4 separate regions of the Homo sapiens genome follow, and regions 1, 2 and 4 are each linked to region 3. The links come from fine-mapping of genetic effects on gene expression. A gene starts in region 3. Each other region holds a variant in brackets. All regions are shown on one strand. Distances are from middle to middle.

Region 1 (5,000 bases), 120 kb before region 3:
TCACACAAGATCCAAAGTGGCAGCCTCGTTAAACAGCAGCAGAAAAGCCACAGGCATCTGGGCTAAAAACAGGGTTTTGTTCTATTTCTTCATTCTCCTTGACTGCTGTGATCTGGGAGTGGGGATGTCCGCCTCAGTACCTCGAACAGCATGGCAGGTCCTCAGCAGCTGTGTGTCACCCACCTTCCATGAGGGACAGAGGGTAGATGGCCTTTTCTTGACATGGAGCAAGATACCTTGTCTCTTAGTGTGTCGTCATCCACTGTCGGTGATGGGTTGCCACTTTCCTCACAGTAACTGAACTTTGCATTGATTTTTTTGTGTAGATTTGATTTTCAGTTTGTCAACTTATTTTTGTACTGTTTGGAAGTGCCTGGAGTGTGTGGCTGTGATGTACACATGCCTGTCATTGACACCTAGTGGACCTATGATTGCAGGCAGCGTCCTCCAGATCGTGTCCGCCCCCGGGCAGCCCTACCTTCGAGCCCCTGGCCCTGTGGTGATGCAGACCGTGTCTCAGGCGGGCGCTGTGCACGGCGCCCTGGGAAGCAAGCCCCCGGCCGGCGGTCCCAGCCCTGCACCCTTGACCCCACAAGGTAGGGTGCTCTGAGCAGGAGGGAGACTTGGCTTGGATGCTTCTTTCTCTTCCATCTAAGGCGAGTGGAAAGCATTCATGTGTCTTTGACTGTATCTCAGAACAGCACAGTCTAGTGTGTGGCCATCTCTGATTTCTATAGATGTGTCCTAGTGTCAGCCTGATTTATTTTCTTTTTCTTGTGCTTTCAAAGGTATTGGTTGGATATAACCAGCCTCCACTGTCCTTAGGTTTTTGTTTTGTTTGTGTTCTCACAAGAAATTTGGAATCATGAGAAATCTTGCTTGTTTGTATATCGCCAGTGTGCTCCGTTTCCCCTGGGAGTGGGAGTGTGTGGCCGCCCACGCAGGGTCTGGTTCTTTGTCCGGCCCGAGCTGCCACTCCTCATCCTGTCTCGCCACCTGCTTCACCTCTGAGTCCCCGCTCTGTGCCTGCCTTGGCCCCAGGTCTCTCTGGACATGCTCTGTCATGATGTGGTGTGTCCTCTGGAACCCAGAGACCCGTGGAGGCAGGTGGGAGCCTAGAGGGGTGAGGCTCTCTCCTTGGGATGGAGCCCTTGTCCTGGTGGCCGAGTGGTGTCCATTCAGTTCCAGCCCCACCTTTGCATAGTGGGCAGTGATGTTGGGTGGGTCACTGCCAACCTGTTAGGCTCTGTTAGTTATCAGAGGAGGCTGCAAGGCTGGAGTGGGGAGGGGCCATGGCTTGTTCTCCAGTCCTGTTAGCATCACCTAGCAGCAGTCCTGCATGCCAGCATGGTCAGCAGTTCCACTCACCAGGTTTTGCCGCTACCCCCAGAACCAGGCATCTTGGGGATTCCAGAACCAGCTGCTGCACCCTTCTTTGCGGGCTGATGAGTCACTGTCCCGTGGAAGCCCTCCTCAGCTTCAGAGGCCCCAGTACCAACTGGAGTCCTGGACCCTGAGGGTCTGAGCTCAGACACCCCCACCCCCAAGTGCTGAGTTCTGACAACCTCAGCCTCTCCTCTTGTTTTTCCCTAAGGTGACTCTTACCCCTGGGCCCCTTTTCAGCACTCAGACACCTCTTTGACCACATCTTTGTAGGAAAGTCTGCCGCACTAAGTGGCATGGCTTCTGCCTTCCTGATTGGCCCTGGCTGGTAGCAGGTGTCATGTCAGGAGCAGCTCCAGGGAACGGATATGAAACGGGCACTGGCTTGCTCTGTTGCAGTTGTGAGGACTGGGTGGACTTCCTGCCGGGGCTGGGCTGCTCATGGCAGGCAAGGGCCTCACAGTCATCAGGCGGTCACCTGGGCTAGGAGGTGGCCATGTGCTGATGGCGATGGGGTACCCAGGGCCTCGGAGGTGTGCTGGGATGCTTCTGGGTGGCTCTGGAGTGCCTCCCAAAAGAAAGGGATAAGCTGCTGGCTCCATTCAGCTCCAGTCATGGCCTGCGAGCCAGCATGCTTCCGTGGCAGGTCTAAAGCATTTAAGTTTGAGCCCATGCACATTCCAGGCATGTGCTGGTGGAGGATGAGGACTTGGGGACATGCCGTTGCAGAATGACTTTCTGTGGAGTGTGCTGGTGGAGGGTGAGGTTCCATGGAGCATGCTGGTGTCAGATGAAATCCTGTGAACTTGGCGTTCCTTTTCACCTCTTCCTTTATGCATTTGTAGTTGGCGTTCCGGGCCGCGTGGCGGTGAATGCCTTGGCTGTAGGAGAACCCGGAACGGCCTCCAAACCAGCTTCTCCCATTGGAGGGCCGACCCAGGTAAGCACCTGAGCTTGAGACCCCGGTGCACGTGGACAGGTAGCTTTCCAAGAGCTGCTCGTTGTGTTTGGTTGTGATATTTAAAGGCTCCTGTGAATTCTCAAGTGATGTTACTGAATTCTTATTTTAAAACACACATTTTCTAATAAAATAAATGAAACTGGACTTACGACTGCCACAATCT[T/A]TTTTTGTATTTTTTATGTCCTTCTGCAAGTCTTCCTGGGCATTAGAATTGCTCACTTGTGTCTTGAGAAATACTTCCCATCTTGGCAAAGAAGAGAACGCTTGTGCTCTCGGCTTCATTTCCATCTCTATTTCCTGTAGCTCTCGGCTTCATTTCTATCTCTATTTCCTGTAACACAAGACCGGGGATATTGAAGTGGATCTCATATGTGGGAAATCACGGGCTGGGTGGGGGGTTGGTGAAGACAGGAACTTGTCATTCTGTTTCTCAAGTAACTGTTTTTCATCACTTTTTGATAAAGGAGGAAAAGACCAGACTCTTGAAAGAGCGCCTGGATCAGATTTATTTAGTCAACGAGCGGCGCTGTTCTCAAGCTCCAGTCTATGGCAGAGACTTGCTAAGGATTTGTGCCCTGCCTAGCCATGGAAGGGTACAGTGGCGTGGGTCCCTGGATGGCCGTCGTGGGAAGGAGGCCGGGCCAGCGCACAGTTACACTTCATCCTCAGAAAGTCCAAGTGAGCTGATGTTGACGCTTTGTCGGTGTGGAGAGTCTCTGCAGGATGTTATTGACAGGTACTGCAGACCTCGTGACCTTTTCGGTGCTCTCTGGCTGCATTGCACCCCGGCAAGACCCCTTCTTGTCTCGTGGATGTACATCTTACTCCCATCGGCTTCTCCCCACGCTGTCCCTTAGCGGTCTGTTTTGAAGTTAGTCTTTGAGGTCTTCAGCTTTGGGATCAGATGGTTTTGTTATCTGGGTCTCAGTGCCAGGTGCGGCTTCTGAAGGAAGTTGGCAGCCCTGGGGGCAGAGCCGCAGCACTGAGCTCACACTGTGCTTGGGGACAGATCACTGTGTTGCTAAGGACTTTCTCCATTTGACTCTTTCAAAAAATGATTGCATTAAAAGAGCCCCATGAGTGAGTGAACATTACATGATGACAAATGTGGGCAGGAGTTGATCTCAGAACGTGCTTTAATGGAGAGCAAATCTGAGCACCGGTGGGCACGGTGGGCACCCGGCCGCTCTCAACTGAGCTTGCTTTCAGTAGAGTGCGTTACCCTGTTTGCATTTCCACTCCCTGCTTGGACCCCATCTCCAGGCTCCACTTCAGACATGTTTTCTTCCCTTCTTTGCAGCTGTTGTAGTTCTCAGTTGTCTCCTGTCTGCAGAGGGCAACCTGGCTTCTTCCTGTGCCTTGGCTCAGCTCAGCTTTCAGGATCTACCTATTTCAGTTCTTTCAGATCAGGAAGCAGAATTAATGGAAAAAAAGAAAACTGGGAGTGCTTCTCCAAGGCCGAACAAGCCACTTCTGGCTTCTCCTGGTCTGGGAGTGACTATGTCAGTGACCTTGTGCTCCTGGAGTTTTTCTTTCGAGTACTGATTTGTCTTTGTGTACTCCTCCCTCATTGAACATCATGGGTGACCATTCGTTCAGTTTGAATACAGCTGGGAGTGAGTCATAGTTGATGTCCATAGCAAGGGCCTTCTGGTGCAGGTGACCTCCACAGGTTGCAAGGTGGGCCTTAGGTTGGCTGTGCGATCTTCGCTCTATTGTCATTGTCCTGAAGGCTCCTTCACCCTGAGTCTGGCCCCCGTCCTGGTGGCACAGTGGCTATAGCAGTTCTAGGGTCCACGAGACAGTGCACCTTTGTCCCAAAGTTTCCAGCTGAAGACACACTAGAAAGAGAATGGCTTATCTCTGACCTGGTGCCTGCGGCCTAGGGAATCCACCCCCATTGATCCATCAGCCCTGGACTGTCTGAATTAGTCCCCGAGGTGGTGGTTATTGGCCAGGACTGGTTAGGATCTGCCTCGTTGGGCCCCTGCCCGTGTGCCAACACCCACATCCCCATGTGACTGGGTTGAGCCCTGCTGTTTCCTGGGACTTGGACTGTCAGAAGTCTGCCCCATCTTTCAGGAGCCCCCATGCTGGGTGAAGGTGTGTGGCTCCTGGTGGTGACAAAACATGCTTTCTGCTCCTCAGGGTGGCCTTTGTGATTCCTCCGGTGGTGGCAGCACCCCCGTCCCTACGGGTGCCGCGGCCGCCACCCCTGTACAGCCACAGAATGAGGATCTTGAGGCAGGGCCTGAGAGAGCACGCTGCGCCGTACTTCCAGCAGCTGCGGCAGACCACGGCTCCACGCCTGCTGCAGTTCCCTGAGCTGAGGCTGGTGCAGTTCGACTCAGGTATGCGGCAGTTGGGGGCGTGGCCCGTGCGGGAGCTGCACCGGCCCTGGATGATGAGGCGCTCTTGATGTGATTCGTTTCCCAGGGAAGTTGGAAGCTTTAGCTATCTTGCTTCAGAAATTGAAATCTGAAGGACGTCGGGTGCTGATTTTATCACAGATGATTCTTATGTTGGACATTTTAGAGATGTTCTTGAACTTCCATTACCTCACCTATGTAAGAATCGATGAAAATGCCAGCAGTGAGCAACGGCAGGTGAGAAGCACATTGTTTACATTGTCTCTGATGGGTCAGTCACTGGTGTT
Region 2 (5,191 bases), 55 kb after region 3:
GAGAGCCCCGCAGCGGTGGCCACAGACAATAGTAAGCAACTGGGTGTGGCTGGGCGCCAATAAAACTGTATTTATTAAAACAGGCAAGGGGCTGGGCTGCGGCAGGGCCCAGGTGCCTGGGAAAGAGGTGGGACCGGGCCCCAACCCCCAGCTCGGCTCCCAGGAAGACACACACAGTGCTGCTGCCTAATCCTCTCTTTATTTGGTCTCTGCTGAAGCAGTCGTGCCAGCCTCCTAGACACGGCCTCAGGTTTGTCGCTGTCCATGTCCTCCAGCACCCCTCTTACCAGACCACAAGGAGCTGCATTATGATGTGTGACTTAGGTCTTGGTTGGAGGGCTGAGCGGCCGCAAGTGCTGGGGGAGGCTGCTTGGAGCATGGGAGGCCTGCGGGTGGAAGACACCAGGGTGCAGCCTGGTGCATGGTCCGGGGCTTGGCCTCCCTATGGGGCGTGGGGGGCTGTGGTACATGCAGAGGCGGCGGCTGTCCCAGCAGCCTGGCCAGGAGATACCGTGGAGAAGGCACGTGTTTGAGTTGGCATCACTGTCCCCAGACGCCCTCCCTCGGGTAGAGCCGCCTGTCCTAGGAGAAGCTGTACTCCAGATGCAGTGGGTGACACCCTGGTCACTCAGCCACACCCCGGCCCCTCAGCCTCTGCTGTCCTGGCCGCACATAGAGCCCTGTCCTGCTGTGTCTGCCGGGCACACCCCGGTCACTCAGCCACACTGGCTCGGCCCAGCGCCTTCCCGAGGTCTGTGGGGGTCCGGGCGGAGGTGGGGTCAGTGCCGTGCGTGTTTGATCCAGTTTCTGATCATCCACTTCTGCCCCGAGCACCTCTGTACCACCAGCCGGAGCCCAAAGTTGGCATCTTTGGACATCTCCACCTCCAGGCAGCGGCCCGTGGCCCGGCTCACAATGGGGCCACTCTGTGGGGACAGGCACATCAAGTCAGCCAGGTGCAGGCGTCCTTGTTCCCCCTCCCCCCACCTCAGGGAGGCTGCTTCGTGCTCTCAGCCCTCGTGCTCATTCTTGGGGCAGCTTGAATGGAAAGCCAGCATCACAGCAGCACCCAGGGGGGCCGGGAAGGGGCTGACTTCAGTGGAGCTTCGAGGATTTCCCATCTTTCCTGCAGGGCTAGCGGCCCAGGTTGGAATCATACCTCATCCCCTTCCTAAATCCTCCCTCTACCCTGGGCACCTGAGGCTGGAAGAGGCAGATGCAGGGCTATGATCAGACTGTCCAGCCCGACCCCTCTCTGGCTGTGTGACCCTGACCAGTCACCTGCCCTCTCTGTGAGCGTCGGGGCCCATAAGGGAACAGCTGATCCAAGGCCCGGTCCCCTGACCACCCCCTGCCGCACTCCAGCTCCCACCCAATGGGCTGGCTCTAGTGGCAGAGGCACCCAGGGGTCCCAGCAGCCCTGCCCCGCCCCAACCCCACGGCCCCCCTTCCCCAGAGGCTGACCTGGGTGAAGTCCCACAGCCGCTGTGTTGGCCGCGCCACATCCTCACACTTCTTCAGGGTGGGCATGCGGCCCGTGCCGTCATCCACCAGACACTTGGAGTCAGGCAAGAAGGCTGTGGAGCCCAGAGGCCCCAGCTGCAGCAGTCCATCAGCGCTGTACCGCACCAGCTGGGGACAGGACCACCGGGACTGTGTGTGAGCAGCGCCCAGGCTCTCCCCAGTGAGCACTGACAGGCCGTGCGAGCTGCCTTGAGCTGCAAACGGGGCCCTGCGCGGCTGCCTTGGAGCCTCCCACCCCGGGGACGCTGTTGCGGGCGGGAGAGGACCGCCGGGCAGGGCCCACGTGGGGATGCGGGCTGGACGGCGCCCAAATGCTCCGCAGGGCCAGGCTCCCGGCTTGCACAGCTGGCTGGTCTTCCGCCTGGACAGACGTCATGAATGTGGCTCAGACCCAGAGCGCGGCCCCACTCGTTTCGGGGAGGACAGGAGTTGGGTTTAATTTGGGCAACATGCAGTGCCGTGTGTGAGCGGAACACGCATTCCCGTGGGGTTAGAAACGTCCAGCTCCTTATGGGGGTCATGGTCAGAATGGCCTGGACCTTCACTACGGCCAGCCCCTGACCACTGTGATTCTGCGGGGCTGGGGCTGGGGCTGGGCCTGGGCCTGTGCTGCAGGTGAGTCCTGCCCAGGTGGGGAGTGCTCGGAGGTCAACAGCACTATTGCCGTGTTAATCCACCCCCCGAGCCAATGCTTCCCACACTTCGCTTCAATCACGCGACAGTCCTGAGCGGTAAGTGCTGTTGCCGTCTCTCTTGACTGAGGGGGGAGTGATGCACCCCCAGCCCATCTGACCCCAAAGGCCTGGTTCCTTTTTAATTTTTTGAGATACGGTCTCGCTCTGTTGCCCAGGATGGAGTGCACTGGTGTGATCTCAGCTCAACCTCCGCATCCCAGGCTCAGGTGATCCTCCTGCCTCAGCCTCCCGAGCAGCTGGGAATACGGGCATGCCCCACCATGCCCGGCTAATTTTTGTATTTTTTGTAGCGACAGGGTTTCGCCACGCTGCCCAGACTGGTCTCAATTCCTGGGCTTAAGTGATCTGTCTGCCTTGGCCTCCCATCGTGCTGAGATGACAGGCGTGAGCCACTGCACCCGGCCCAGGCTGTTTTCAATTCCCCGTGTTCTGCTACCTTCCAGGTGGGGC[G/A]GGCTGGGAGGCCTCTTCTAGAGGGGCCCTCAGGCTGCTCCAAGCCCTGGAATGCAGCCCTGGTGGCCTCAGAACACCCCAGCAGGCTGGACCCGTGCCTCTGCCCCAGGGTGTAGGGTCCGGGTGGCCTGGGGTCGTCCCCTTGGGAGCTGCATGGGTGGCCGCTGCTACTCCTACCTGGGAGGACATCCCGTGGCAGGGGTAGAGGATCGCCCGGTCGCCGTCCTCCGCTCCCTGGTCCAGACAGTAGGCACTGGCTTTGCTGTTTCTCACCTGCAAGCAGAAGCCCCAGGAGAAAGTCCAGAGTCACCCGAGGGTGCGGCCCCAGGGAGCTTCACGCAGCCAGCTCTGCAGCCAGCACCTAAGGAGGTGCCCGCGGGAGGAGGAGGGGGCGTGTGGGATGCTCTGGCCGGGTGGGCTGCCTGGGAAGGGGTGGCTGACCGAGTTTGTCACTGATGGAGACATGGAAGTGTCCGCCATGCACAGATGGAGACTTGGCCATCACTCCATAGGGGAACACTTGAGCAGCAGGGACGACGGCCCCAGGCTGTGGAGTGGCTTCCCTGCCTTGCCGCCTGCTCCCTGTGCCCTTGCGGCTCCCACTGAGTGGGTAGAGACCGCTCGCCAGCCTTGCAGTCTAGGCTGGCCTTGGCTTGGACCCTTGGGAGACCTTCCAGCTTCCACTCTGTCTTGGAAGGAACCCTGACAGCCCTCTGAGAACAAGCCCGGGCCAGACTGCTGGGGGATGTGTTGTCATCGGGCAGCCAACCTCCAGCCTCCAGAACAGGCCCATCGGAGATCAGCACAGCCTGGATCAGGCCAGCAGCACTGCCTGGGTGGCCCCGGCTCGTGAGCAAGTGTAGATGCTTATTGCTTTTGTCCACCGCGTCTCCAGGCTGCTGGGTTTGCAGCAGCAGCTGACCCATCCACCACGGCCACCACGAGAGGTCACACAGGTTTGAATTGGGACCGTTGAGGAAGCCCAGCAGAGTCTGGATGTTACGGCTGCTCTGGGTTGGGGGTGCCTGCACTTGGCTAATTGAGGATGGAGTGGGCAGAGTAGAAGCACAGGGAGGCTGGGGGAGAGGGGCGGTGCCCCGATGCACACTCAGCACTGCCTGGGAAACCTCTGTGCCCAAGGGACTGGAGTCAGCGCAGGGTGGACCAGGAGCTGCAGGAGGGGAGGCTCAGCGAGGACCATCCACCCCAGGGACCCTTTTCCTTGCCCCATCCGAGTGCCAGCTCAGGGCTGGGACGCTCGAGTCTCATGGTGGGAGGCACCCCATCCCCTGCACAGACTGGGGAGAGGGCAGAAGAGCAGCACCTTCTCGCTGGCTTTACGGAGTGCTGTGCATGTGGGGGCCAGTGGAGACGGGGGTCTCTGTGTAGCTGATGGGCCTGTGTGAGTGTGCATATCACCCATTGTGTGCATCTGTGGGGGCACCTTCATGCATGCACGCTGGTGTATGAACGTGGCTCCGCATATGTGGATGCACAGACGTGTACACACACACATTATTTTGCTTGATAACAAGGGCCTGTGTGTTTATCTGTGCACAGGCAGGCGCCTTTGGGGTTCATGCACTTAGTGAAACATACATCTGTGTAGGAAGAGCTGTGTACATTAGCAAAACTGGGTGCAAATGTATACTCGTGTCCGCGTGCTCTTGTACATATGAGTGTTTGCATGGATTTACGTACCTGCCTGTGAATGTCTCTGTACACACATCTAGGTGAGTGCATGTATCCCTATGTACACATACGTGAGAGCGTAGGTACATTGAATCAGGCATGTGAACACGCATGGATGTGACTACACACCTGCCTGCCTCTAGGGAGGTCCATGTGAAGGAATGGGTGTGTATGGACATGTGGGTCTGCAGGTGCGTGTGTTTATGTGAACCTGCACCTTGTGTGTGCACGTGGATGTGCCTGCATCACCGTGAATGCACACGTGTGTGCAGGAGTCAGGGCGGAAGGCCTGTCGGGCCGAGTGGGACCCTCTGGGGGAGGCGCTACCTCTCCGTGTGCATGTGGATGTGCCTGCATCACCCTGAATGCATACGTGTGCAGGAGTCAGGGCAGAAAGCCTGTCGGGCCGAACGGGGCCCTCGGGGGAGGTGCTACCTCTCCGTACGTGAGGGTGTTGTTGTAGACCCTCATCTCCGGGTACACGTTCTCCAGGTACCACTTGAAGCTGCGACACTTCAGCCTCTGACGCAGGGCCAGCCTCTCAGACACGTCCCCGAAGTCCACCCCTGGGTTCTGCAAGGCCAGAAGTAGGTGAGAGGGTACATGGGTGTCACCATGACCTGGGTCTTCCCCATAATGAGGTTGGGGGTCTCCAGGGACCAAGTGCCCTCACAGGAGCAGCCTCCCCCCCAGTATTCAGATGCTGAGGCCCCATCCAGTTGGGACCCCCCAGCCTCCTAATATCCACAGAGGGTCTGAGGCAGCTGCTCCTGATGGGAAGGACCCTGCCAGAGGCCAGCCCCGGCCTGGACAGACGGCCCCTGCTGCAG
Region 3 (5,191 bases):
CTTCACGGGAACAGGTGGTTAAAGATGGTGGCCCCTCCTCTGCTCCCACGGTGCCTCAGGCCACCTGCAGGGCTGAGCAGGGACCCCCTGAAAAACCCGCACCCTGACACAACCTACGTTTTCTGGACGAGGCTCTCCTGCTCCTTGGCCAGAGACTTCTGTCCCGTAACCAGGGAGACTCTCAGAGGTGTGGCATCTGTGTAGATGTTGAAAACTTTGCTCACCTGCAGGAGAAGTCTGTCACTGGCCTGGAGGTAGCTGGTGTCCACCTACTGCAGCAAAAAGGACCCCAGATCTAATCTGGGTCCCCCAGGGGCTGATCGCTGTGCACTCAGCAGGGAAGCTGAGGCGGGCGGTGCCACGCTCCAGGTCTAGGGTCCACATACCTGCTGGGCCAGCTCCTTGGTGGGCAGCACAACCAGGGCACGGATGTGGCAGACCACTCTCGAAAGCAGGGCCTGAGGGGGAAGGAGCGCCTGCGTCAGCAAGGCTGTTACCTGTCCTCTGCACACCCGCTGTAGAGAAAGGGGACCCTCACACAGACCTGCACCACAGGGATGACGAAGGCCAGTGTCTTCCCACTGCCTGTTGGGGCAGAAACACAGAGGTCGCTAGGCCGGTAGCCACCTCTGCCCACCAGAAACCCACAGGCTGCGCTCTCCAGGAGGGCAGGAATCACAGCTGCCTGGACTGGATGAGGAAAGGCGAGAGAGAAGTCGTGTTTACGCCTAGGCCTAGGCCTGCCGCTTCCCTGCCTGTGACCTCTGGGCTGGGCTGCTCTGCTGGAGGCCTGGGAACCGCTCCCCAGAGGGATGGCACCAAGGCCCAGAGGAACGCCAGCCTCAGGAGACCCAAGTGGGAACCATGAGCTTGAGAGTGCTGAGACCACACTTGGCACCGATGTGGCAGGGACGCCTGACCCACGGCCACTCACAGCCTTGTGTGTGGGTGCCCAGGGAGGTGTTCCCTCAGCTGCCTGCCCGGGGCTGGGGCACCTGGAAAGTAGGACGAGATGCCGTGTGCCCGCAGCTGCTTCTGCAGGTCAGGATGGACGTCAGGGATGTCCTCGATAGGAACCAGGTCTTCGGTGACATTCCTTCTGACACAGTTAGGCTCAGCCAGCCACCTTGGCAGGAAAGGCTGGACCTGCCATCAAAAAGAAAGAGAGGCCAGGTGAGCGCTTTCCAGGCTCTCGCGCAGAAGCCCACGGTGGAAAAAGCTAGGGGAGGGAGGCTGGGGAAACCTCTGTCGTCTTCAGCTCCTTCTCAGCCCCAGGATGCGCTTTCCATACAGCCTTCAGAAGTTAAACAGTAAAAGCAGATGCCACTCCCTGAGCAAACTCACTCTGTAGCCTCCCATCAACCCACAGTGGCACCCACCCTCCCGCAGCCAGGAGGTCCTGTGACCTGGCGCTCGCCTGCCCCAGCCACGCCGGCGTCCCTGCCTCGAGGCCTCTGCCTGGCACCCCCAACCCCCAACCTTGACCTGGCTTCAAGTCTTTGCATCCCAACTCAAAGAGAACCTCCTCCACCTGCCCTACCTAAGGTGCCCGAGCACTCTGTCAAACTTCTCGCTTTCTTCACCTGTCTCGCCGGAAATCTCTTTACCGAAAACCACACGTGCTAAGCAAAAACACCAACGGTCAGGAGCTTGCAGAACGGCCTCTGACTTACTCCTGAGGCGGTGAGCGCACAGCAGGAAACCCCGCACGTTCACGCAAACACATCTTGCAGAACTGGCGCGGCGCGGCGGGAGGACAGGGGCAAGCCTAGCAGAGGAAACGGGAGCTCTGCACGTGCAGGATCCAGACCCCTAGGCGATGAAACTGCAGACCTGGCAGCGAGGCGCGGCTGTGACCCGGGAACATTCGCTGAACGAAATCTTCCGGGGCGACCGCCGCACTTAAGAATCCGCGCAGCCTACCCTCTCACGCCGACCACCCTCCCGCCCGCCGAGGCTCACCTTCGGCGCCTTCCTCTTCCCGAACCCCCCCAGCACCAGGCCGGGGACCAGGGGTCCGGCCGCCTCCTCCAGGGCCGGTCCATCTGGGGCCGCCTCGGCGCTGGCGCTGGTGCTGCGCTCCCCCGGCGCCTCCTCGCTGCTCCCTGCGCTGGGCTCCCCTGGCGCCTCCTCGCTGCTCCCTGCGCTGGGCTCCCCTGGCGCCTCCTCGTTGCTTTCTGCGAGGCAGACACCCACCCGGCAGCGCGTCAGCACCGAGTCGCCGGCGCCCCAGAGGGAGCCCGCTCGCCCCGCGGCCCACCTGCGCCCGCGTCCTCGCCGTCCGCCTTCCGTCGCTTTCCCTGCGGCGCCTCCGGGCTCCCCGGCTCCGCGTCGTTCACCCGCCGCCGCCGCCGGGGCCGCCGTCGCCTCCTGGTCGCCGGCTCGGTCGATGCAGCCGCCTCGGTCTGCGCGGGCTCCCGCTGCTGCTGCCGTTCGCGGGCCCGGCTCTGCAGCCGCTCGAGCAGCGCGCGGGCCCTGCCGTGCGCCCCGGCCTCCGCGCCCTCCGGCCCCGCCGCAGCTGCCGCATCGGGGCCCGGGTACCGCGCGACGTAGAACAGCGCCATGGCCAGCCGCACGCCTGGGACTCGGGCGTGGCGCGCTGCGATGACGTCGGCGGCACGCCTGCGACTCGGGCTCCGCGCAAAAGATGGGGTTGGGGTACGGCGCGTAGAGATGACGTCGGGTTCTACGCGCAGTGGTGACGTCACGGGAGCGCCGGCGGCTGAGAATCCGCGTTGTTCCGTGTTGGGGGCGGCATGGAGCGGGAGCCGGGCGCCGCGGGAGTTCGCCGGGCTCTGGGCCGCCGGCTGGAGGCGGTGCTGGCGAGCCGCAGTGAGGCCAACGCCGTGTTCGACATCCTGGCCGTGCTGCAGGTGGGCCTGGCGGCGTCGCAGGGCCGGAGTCGCGGCACGGGAGCGGGACTTGAATGGGGGGCTGCGGCGGCAGGTCCCCAGGAGGTTCCGAGACGGCGTTGGGGGGTCAGGGTGGGAGGCGTGTGGGTCACGGGTCGGGGGTGACGGGGCTGGCGTCCCGAGGGGGAAGGGAACGGGTTGGGGGCAGCCTAGGCAGGGGCGAAGGTGACAGTTGGCGGCCGGGCACCCTGCCGCCGCCTCTCCTGCAGTCTGAGGACCAGGAGGAGATCCAGGAAGCAGTCCGCACGTGCAGCCGTCTTTTCGGGGCCTTGCTGGAGCGGGGAGAGCTGTTTGTGGGCCAGCTGCCCTCTGAGGAGATGGTCATGACAGGTGAGCCCTGGAGGGCCCCGGGGCTGCTCTTCTCTTTCCGTGGGTCGGAGGGAGGCTTTGTCACCATGGGATGAGCGCCCCCAACCCTGGCACAGGCCGTGCAGGCTGGTGGGAGGACGCACCAAGCCCACCGTGGAAGATGGATGGTGGCGTTGGGGCAGGGGTGACATGGGTGCCCTGCAGCTGAGTGTAGATGAACACTGGACAAGGTACGACTTTTTGTGTGCTTTGCACCCCTTTTGTAATTTGATGTTGACTGATCCTGACACGGTCGCTTAAACTCGGAGCTTCCTTTATGTCCCCATCCTGGGGACGTCAGGTCTTGGAGTAAAGAGAGGGGATGTGGATCCTGCTCCTGGCAGCTTGGCTGGGGCAGTCCTGGGGTAGGAGGTGCTCTTCCTGTTTGCAGGGCTCAGGGAATGTGCTGGTCTCAGCACAGGTCTGGGGGCCTTAGCGACCTGTTTCCACCTGCGGAGGCTGAGTAGAAGACAATGGGAGGGTGGAGCCAGGCCTGAGATTTTGGGCTGGGCCCAGGGTGGCGTATGTGGGCCTCACGTGGGCTGACCACCCTAACCTGTCTGCAGGGTCCCAGGGAGCCACACGGAAGTACAAGGTGTGGATGAGACACCGCTATCACAGCTGCTGCAATCGCTTGGGAGAGCTCCTGGGCCACCCCTCCTTTCAGGTCAAGGTGGGTCATTGGGCTGGCCTCATCCTTGTCCATCCCCTGCACCCCAACTCCCAGGTTATCCACAAAGCAGAGGTCTGGGGCTCCCACAATTGTCCAGGCAAAGCTGCTTCCTTCATGGGAGCATCACCCTGTGGGTGTTCAGTCCCATTCAGAAACATGGCTATCGAGTCCTGTAGTGAATATTGAAGACGCAGAATCCGTGTTCATTTCCAGTGGCATCCACGGGGATCTCTGTGTTTGCATAGAGCACGCACACCAAGCCTCGTGCCAGTCCACAGATGTGTTTGCTCAGATCACACTGTGGTCTGCAGCCATGGGAATGCATTATGAGCTTTCTTAAAATCTGTAGTGAGGAATAACTGAGGCACAGTTTACCGTTTAAAGCTGAGAAGTTAGCATCTGTTACTGTGTTGTGCAGTGGTTGCCGCTATCCCAGAACATCTTTATCGCCCCGAAAAGAAATCCTGTACCAGTTACCATCGCTTCCATATCCCGCCCCTTTCCACCCCCAGCCCCAGGCAGCCACTCCTGGATCAGTGGTTACTTCCTGGATCAATGGGTTTGCTTTTTTTAGACGCTCCTCATAAGGGGGATCATACGGTATGTGGCTTCTTCCACTCATCGGCGTGTTCGAAGTTCGTTCTCTTTGTGGCTGAGTAGCAGCGCGTCGTATAGCACAGCACGTATCGTTCAGCCGCTCGTAGGTTGCTGGGCATTTGCGTCGTTTCCACCTTTGGCTGTTACGAACAGCGGACTGTGAACGTTCGCGTACAAACTCTTGTGTGATGTTTCTTTTGCTTGAATATGCCTTATCAGTGGAATTACAAGGCCACACAGCAGCTGTGTTTTTAATGTTCTGAGGAACTACAAGACTGTTTTCCATAGTAGCTGCGCTATCTTACCCTCCCCCTGGCAGCATTTGAGAGTTCCATACTCCACATCCTCGCCAACACGTCTGTCTATAATTATAGCCGAGCTGCAGACTTTTAAATGTTGGGGAGATACCACGTGAAAATAACCAGTTTCCACCTTCTCAGAAAGAAATAATCAGTTCTGTCAACACGGGGTCTAAGTTTGTTCATGGCTGCGATTGGCTGGAGGGAGAGTCAGAGACAGCTCTGAGACAGCCGTGTGCTCCTGTCATCCCGCACGAGGCTCTTTTGCTTTGTGGTGTCATTTGCCTGGGCCCTGAAAGCACTGAGTTTGCCACCCCGAGATGAGAGCTTCCAAGCCTGGGTCTGAGTTGGGCACCATGCTG
Region 4 (5,191 bases), 670 kb before region 3:
CCAGGGCAACAACAGCACGCACCCAGCATTTGTGCCCATCCCTTGCCCCACGCTGCAGGGCCTGCCTCCTGGGGACCTCTGAGCCTCTGAGCCCTGTGCTGCTCACGACGCTGAGAACGCTCCTGATCAGGAACGGACCCTACCCGCACGCCCAGGGCCTCACGAGCTCAATCAGGCCATCCCTCGACAACAGCTTCCAGGTGTGCCCTGCCTTCTGAACATAAAAGCTGATGAAAATCCCATCGCCCATTGGGAGTAAACGCCATGTGCATGGCTCCTCAGGAGGAGTCTGTAGGGAGAAAATCTTTCTTCCTTAATCTTCTGATAAGAGACCTATTTTCCCTACTGCAGTCGTGAGACACCCATAAGCAGTGATGCGGTGTTCCTGATGAGTTGTGAATTATCTCCTAAGTGTCTAAAAAGCGCCTCAGCCCACAGCAGCCTGCTGCCTTCAGAGGATGCACTAGATAACGGTCTCCCCAGCTGCTGGCGGGAGTCCTGTTCCGGTGTGGTGAGGAGCCAGGGACGTGGACACGGGAAGCCTGAGGGATTCTGCACCGTCTCCATCCCTTTCTGCTGGCCAGAGCCACTCCCAGGCTCAAGCCCAAAGCCAAGGGCAGAGGGTGGGGGCTCCACAGGGAGGGGTGAAGCCCTGTAGCCATGAGCTGGATCTATCACAGCCCCCACAGAGGGCTATTTACAGGTGGTGGTGAGAGAGGAGCTGAGATGTCCCTGAGGGGCGCCTGGGGAGGAACAGGCCCTACAAGGTGACTCCAGGTCAACCTCTTAGGAGGACACCATCTCCCGGGATCCCGGAGGGAGCCACACGTTTCTGAACAGGGCCAGATGGAAAGTAGGAAATATGAGGGGTAGATGAGACTAGAACTGTTTTCAAAGATACAGAAAAAGGAGGGATTAACTCCAGGGACCCTCTCCCTACTAGAATTCCTGAAGGAAATGCATAAAGAAGACAATTTACTGAGAAGCAGTTTGAAATACAGTAAGTTACAGTGAGAAAAGAAAATGATGTATATGGTACAATAGTAAATAATTATTAAATAATAATATCGACAGAGGAAATAAAACCAAACCCAGCTAGAAGACTGTATGTTAACAGCCTGTCAGCCAGAGGGCAATAGTTGAAATTAATAATCATAATTCAGAAAGGAGGCAGAGATGGCTATTAATGAAAGTGTAATGAATTAAACGCACTTGTCAAAAGGTAAGCGACAAGAGATGCAGAATGTCCATCCTAAAAACCAGTAGGGGAAGGAAAACAATGAAAAAAAATTCTGAAGAAGACAAGTCCATGCTGTGCTATATTATCTTAGAAAACACAAACATCTCCGTGTTTCTGTATGTGTTTAACATATCTCTGGAAGGTTCACAGAAGACGGGGTTGCCCACAGGGAACATGGAGATTCCTGTCTAAGTGGTAGTTGTTAGAGAAAGAGGACATTCATTTAAAATCCCAGCATATTCTTCCTGGTGAAAATTAATTTTAAAACCCATCATTTAAGAGATTGGAAAAGTGTGGCTGTAAACTGGAGGAGAACTAAAGGACATGCCAGGAGAGAATGTGGGCTTAGGGAGGAGTTCCCTTGAGCCGGGAGCTCCTGGGAACATCTAGAGGGGAGGGGACGCAGCCACGACAGAGGCGGAGGAGGAGTCAGGAGAGGAGACAGTGGTGCAGGGGAGGCAGGACGGGGCCAGCGGTGCTGCCAGGGCCTGCTCCTGCTCTCCCAGAGCTCCTGCTGTGCCCGTGGTCACACTTTTCCATACCTCCCTGGAGCTGTAGACAGGCGAAGGCCCCTGAGTGGTGTAGCCACGCCAAGACGTGCTTTAGGAAGGAAACTGCCCAAGCATTAAAGGGAAATGAGGTCACGGTGAACTTTGTCCCCTCTGGGCTTGAACAGAGAAGAGCATCTGTCCTGGGATGGAGGACGTGGATGGAGCAGGACCACGCAGCGTGGCACCTGCAATGTCAGAGGCACCTGGGCAGGAACACCTGGCACAGCCATGTCATCTTGTTTGTGCCTCGGTTCATCCTCCCAGAGCCGGCCCCTCCATCCCCAGGAGCGAACCCCACCCTCCCTATCATAATGGGCTGACCAGGGCCAAATTGGTTTCATGAAAAGGAGACACCTGCAGGCAGAGCCCAGCGGACACTCGGTTGTCTGAAGTTGCCGCACCTGCTTCATTTTGCTTATTGAGCTACTCCTGATGCCCACAGCACTTTCTAACAAGAAATGAGCAGCGAATCCACGGAAACCAATGGGAATGGGATGTGGCAGGCATGATTTACAGTTTAGTTAATTCGAATAAGCAGAGAATCACACCCACTGAGAGATTCGGAACCACAGCCTCCACGACACACGGCTCCTCTCAGCAGGAGTCCTTCCCAGCAAAGGCTCCCCCAACACACCCCGTTCCACATCACGGAGTGCCAGCCCCGGCCCAGCCCGGCTCATCCTCAGGGAGATGGACTCAGCAGGGCTGCCAGAGCCCAGGCCAGCGCTGCTCCCTCCCTCACCGTCCACAACCAGGGCCAACTCATCTTCACAGCTCGACCCCATGCTCTGGTCACTTTTCAGCCCAGTGACTGTTTCAAAGGCATCTGGCACAAGTCAGGAGAGTGCTGTGGAGTCAGTGGAGGCTCCCAGCCAATGAGAGCACCCCCTTCAGGTGAGCTCCTTCCCCCATGGGGACTGCAGCATGGGGAGACCAGCTTCCCCGCATCAGCCCTGCATAAGCTCTGAGCTCTGCTGCTCCATGCCCCGCACGGCTGCTCTAGGGATGAGCATGGTGATATCTGGCTTCCGTGTCCGGGGAGCCTCTGGTCATCAGCAAAGTGAGGGGTGCACACACAGCCCTGC[G/A]GTGAAGACAGGGGTGTGGCTGATAGGACCCCAGGGCATCGGGACTCCCACCTGTCAGCAGCAGAAGTGGACCTGCTCTGTGCACAAGGGAGCTGCCTTTGACCTGATTTTGGCAGTGATGGCGGTGTCCACAGAGGTCAGGATTTACTGATTTAGAAAAGAAATGGCTGGGATTGCAAACCATGAGCTTTGTGGCCCTCCAGACCACAGGTGGCTGCAGACTTGGACTGAGAGGCCCCAGAGGCCAGGCAGGAGGGCCCCAGTCTGTCCCAGAACACATGAGTCCAGGCCTGGCTGCTGATCTCCTGATGGTTCCCCCAGCACTGTCTACCTCCCAGAAGCCTCGGTGTCCCCATCTAGATGAGGAGACAGGGGTCTGGACCTCAGAATCAACCAGGAAGGCTCCAGTGGAATGGTGGGAAATGGGAGTGACCCACCCATGCCTTCCCAGCGAGACTCCCAAGAGCCGCTGTGGATCTGGGACTGAAGTCCCCTGGGCAGGGCAGCTGTGGGCTGGGGCAGGGATGGGGGCTGGCCAGGGGGAAGAGGCACGTGGTAAGGATAGTGCCCTGGATGGGGGGATCAGGGCCACTTTGGGAACCAGCCGGGGCAACAGAAGTGTGTCCAGGTGATTTGGGCATGAAAAACAGGATCTGTGGGAAGAACCGAGGGGTCTGTGCAGGGATTTCATGTTCTGGCCCCACATCCTGCTCTGTGTCCGTGAACCCATGAGCACGGGTCCCTTCCCCCAGAGTCCACCCGGCCTCAGCAGGAGGGAAGCAGGGGCAGGTAGTGTGGAGGCCTGAGCCACACTGACCACCCCGCACATACGTGCCCTCTCCAGGCACCCGAGGAGGGGCAGCTCCCCGCAGACAAGGGCTCCACCTGGAGTGACAGCAGCTCTGCCTGGAGCATCCCTGACTCATCTGAAAAGCCACTGATGGGGCCCCACTCAGCGAGGAGGCCGACACTTAGCAGGGACAGGACAGGTGGACGGGGCGCCTGTCTGTGTCCCCATTTACGCCAATGGGAGCTCAGGCATGCACGGCCGCTCCCGGGCTCCTCACCCAGATATAGCCTCAGGACAGCAGGTCTGGGCTTCCCACTGAAGACCCCAAGGGGCAGCGAGCTGGTATAAGAGATAAGGGGAACATACATTTAACTCTTGGCTTTTTACAGTAGCTATTTGCCAAAATTAAAGGAAAAAAAGAATTTTCCTGGGACAGCCAAGGGTGAAACATCCAAGTGGGTTTAAAATCCTCAACATTCCAAGCTGAGAGGCCACGAGGTTCACCCAGGTTCACAGCAGAGCCCAGTAGAGCCACATCCTTCCCAACAGGAAATGCCTGTCCCTGTGAGATCAACTGCAAGATGCCCATAACCACGAGAGAGCGTTTTGCTTCCTTCTCTGCGCGAATCGGCTGCTCCTTCCATCTCACCAGCAGCAAGGTAACAGCAACACCTGAGTGAGTGCCCATGGGTCCCGGGGCTAAGCTGACTCCCCAGCATGTCCCAGGAGGCAGGCGCCCTTATCCCCATTTTACAGATGAGGAGACTGAGGCTCAGCGAGGGTAGAAGGGTCCCCGATTCCCACACTCAGAATTGGTGGAGCCCGAGTCAGCCCGAGTCCATCTGACCCTGGAGCCGCCCCTGCTCAGCCCTGGGCCCCGCCCACCAGGGCACAGCCAGTTTGTGAAGGATTTTAACAGAAAAGCCACAAATCTGATGTGAAGACGCCTACCTGAGAGACGGTGAGCCGAGGGGTGACCCGGGGCAGGGAGCAATGAAGCCCCTGGAGCAGGGCCCAGGGAGCCGGGCCGAGGAGAGTCTGGGAGGTGCATCAGCCTCTGGGACTCTTAGGAAGCTCCAACGATGACACCGGCCGTCCCTCACCTGAAAATGCACAGGCTGCGTCACGTGGGAGGGAGGAGTGACTGTTTCTGAGAGCGAGGAGCCTCCTAGTGCACAGAATGGGTCAGCCGCTGAGCAAATGCTGCATTGCAGGCCTGGCCCTGTGTGACTCTGGGGAACATTCTGGCCGCCAGTGCACATCTGAGGCCAGCTCTCCCCTCCAGCTATTTGATCCAGGGCAGAAACTGATCACACCCAAGCCCAGAGGCCCCGAGGATATCGCAGAGACCCCGAGGAAATCGATCGAAACCAGACTCATTTCCACGGTTCAGGAGCTTGTCACTGCTCCTGACCTGCTGCTGGGTCCTCCTGGGTGCTTCAGGCTGGAGCAAGGAGCACGGGCGGCTCCGGAGGCTCTGGAGGGGGAAGGAGCCACCCAGAGCCCGGGGGAGCAGGAGCAGCGT

The links. PIP is the estimated chance that this variant, and not a neighbour inherited with it, causes the effect.
Region 1: its variant is the best candidate, but not a certain one, in a credible set for the expression of NOC4L in atrial appendage (GTEx, PIP 0.73).
Region 2: its variant is the best candidate, but not a certain one, in a credible set for the expression of NOC4L in whole blood (Lepik 2017, PIP 0.66).
Region 4: its variant is the best candidate, but not a certain one, in a credible set for the expression of NOC4L in subcutaneous fat (GTEx, PIP 0.76).

What each region holds. Positions count from the first base shown.
Region 1 is chr12:132,025,209-132,030,208 of GRCh38, forward strand. It overlaps EP400 (E1A binding protein p400), which reads left to right. Exons shown (of 53, transcript NM_015409.5): 25 at 438-596; 26 at 2,229-2,323; 27 at 2,809-3,080; 28 at 4,493-4,695; 29 at 4,781-4,950. Among named protein-coding and RNA genes, the nearest start is that of SNORA49, 3.5 kb to the right of the region's middle. RefSeq lists a silencer at 2,796-3,090. The variant T/A (reference allele first, on the strand shown) is at 2,508.
Region 2 is chr12:132,196,328-132,201,518 of GRCh38, forward strand. It overlaps GALNT9 (polypeptide N-acetylgalactosaminyltransferase 9), which reads right to left. Exons shown (of 11, transcript NM_001122636.2): 8 at 4,797-4,934; 9 at 2,847-2,942; 10 at 1,465-1,632; 11 at 45-926. The coding sequence ends at 780. It overlaps LOC105370091 (a long non-coding RNA gene), which reads left to right and starts at 2,936. Exons shown (of 6, transcript XR_007063541.1): 1 at 2,936-3,038; 2 at 3,367-3,625; 3 at 4,854-4,960; 4 at 5,112-5,191. The variant G/A (reference allele first, on the strand shown) is at 2,670.
Region 3 is chr12:132,141,733-132,146,923 of GRCh38, forward strand. NOC4L (nucleolar complex associated 4 homolog) reads left to right here and starts at 2,725. Exons shown (of 15, transcript NM_024078.3): 1 at 2,725-2,873; 2 at 3,122-3,242; 3 at 3,827-3,933. The coding sequence starts at 2,757. It overlaps DDX51 (DEAD-box helicase 51), which reads right to left and starts at 2,587. Exons shown (of 15, transcript NM_175066.4): 1 at 2,261-2,587; 2 at 1,963-2,177; 3 at 996-1,146; 4 at 545-690; 5 at 387-458; 6 at 118-224. The coding sequence starts at 2,564. RefSeq lists enhancers at 673-1,578, 2,508-2,807 and silencers at 2,178-2,377, 2,448-2,497.
Region 4 is chr12:131,469,690-131,474,880 of GRCh38, forward strand. LOC101929974 (a long non-coding RNA gene) reads right to left here. Exons shown (of 4, transcript NR_187799.1): 2 at 4,618-4,769. Among named protein-coding and RNA genes, the nearest start is that of LINC02370, 120 kb to the left of the region's middle. The variant G/A (reference allele first, on the strand shown) is at 2,877.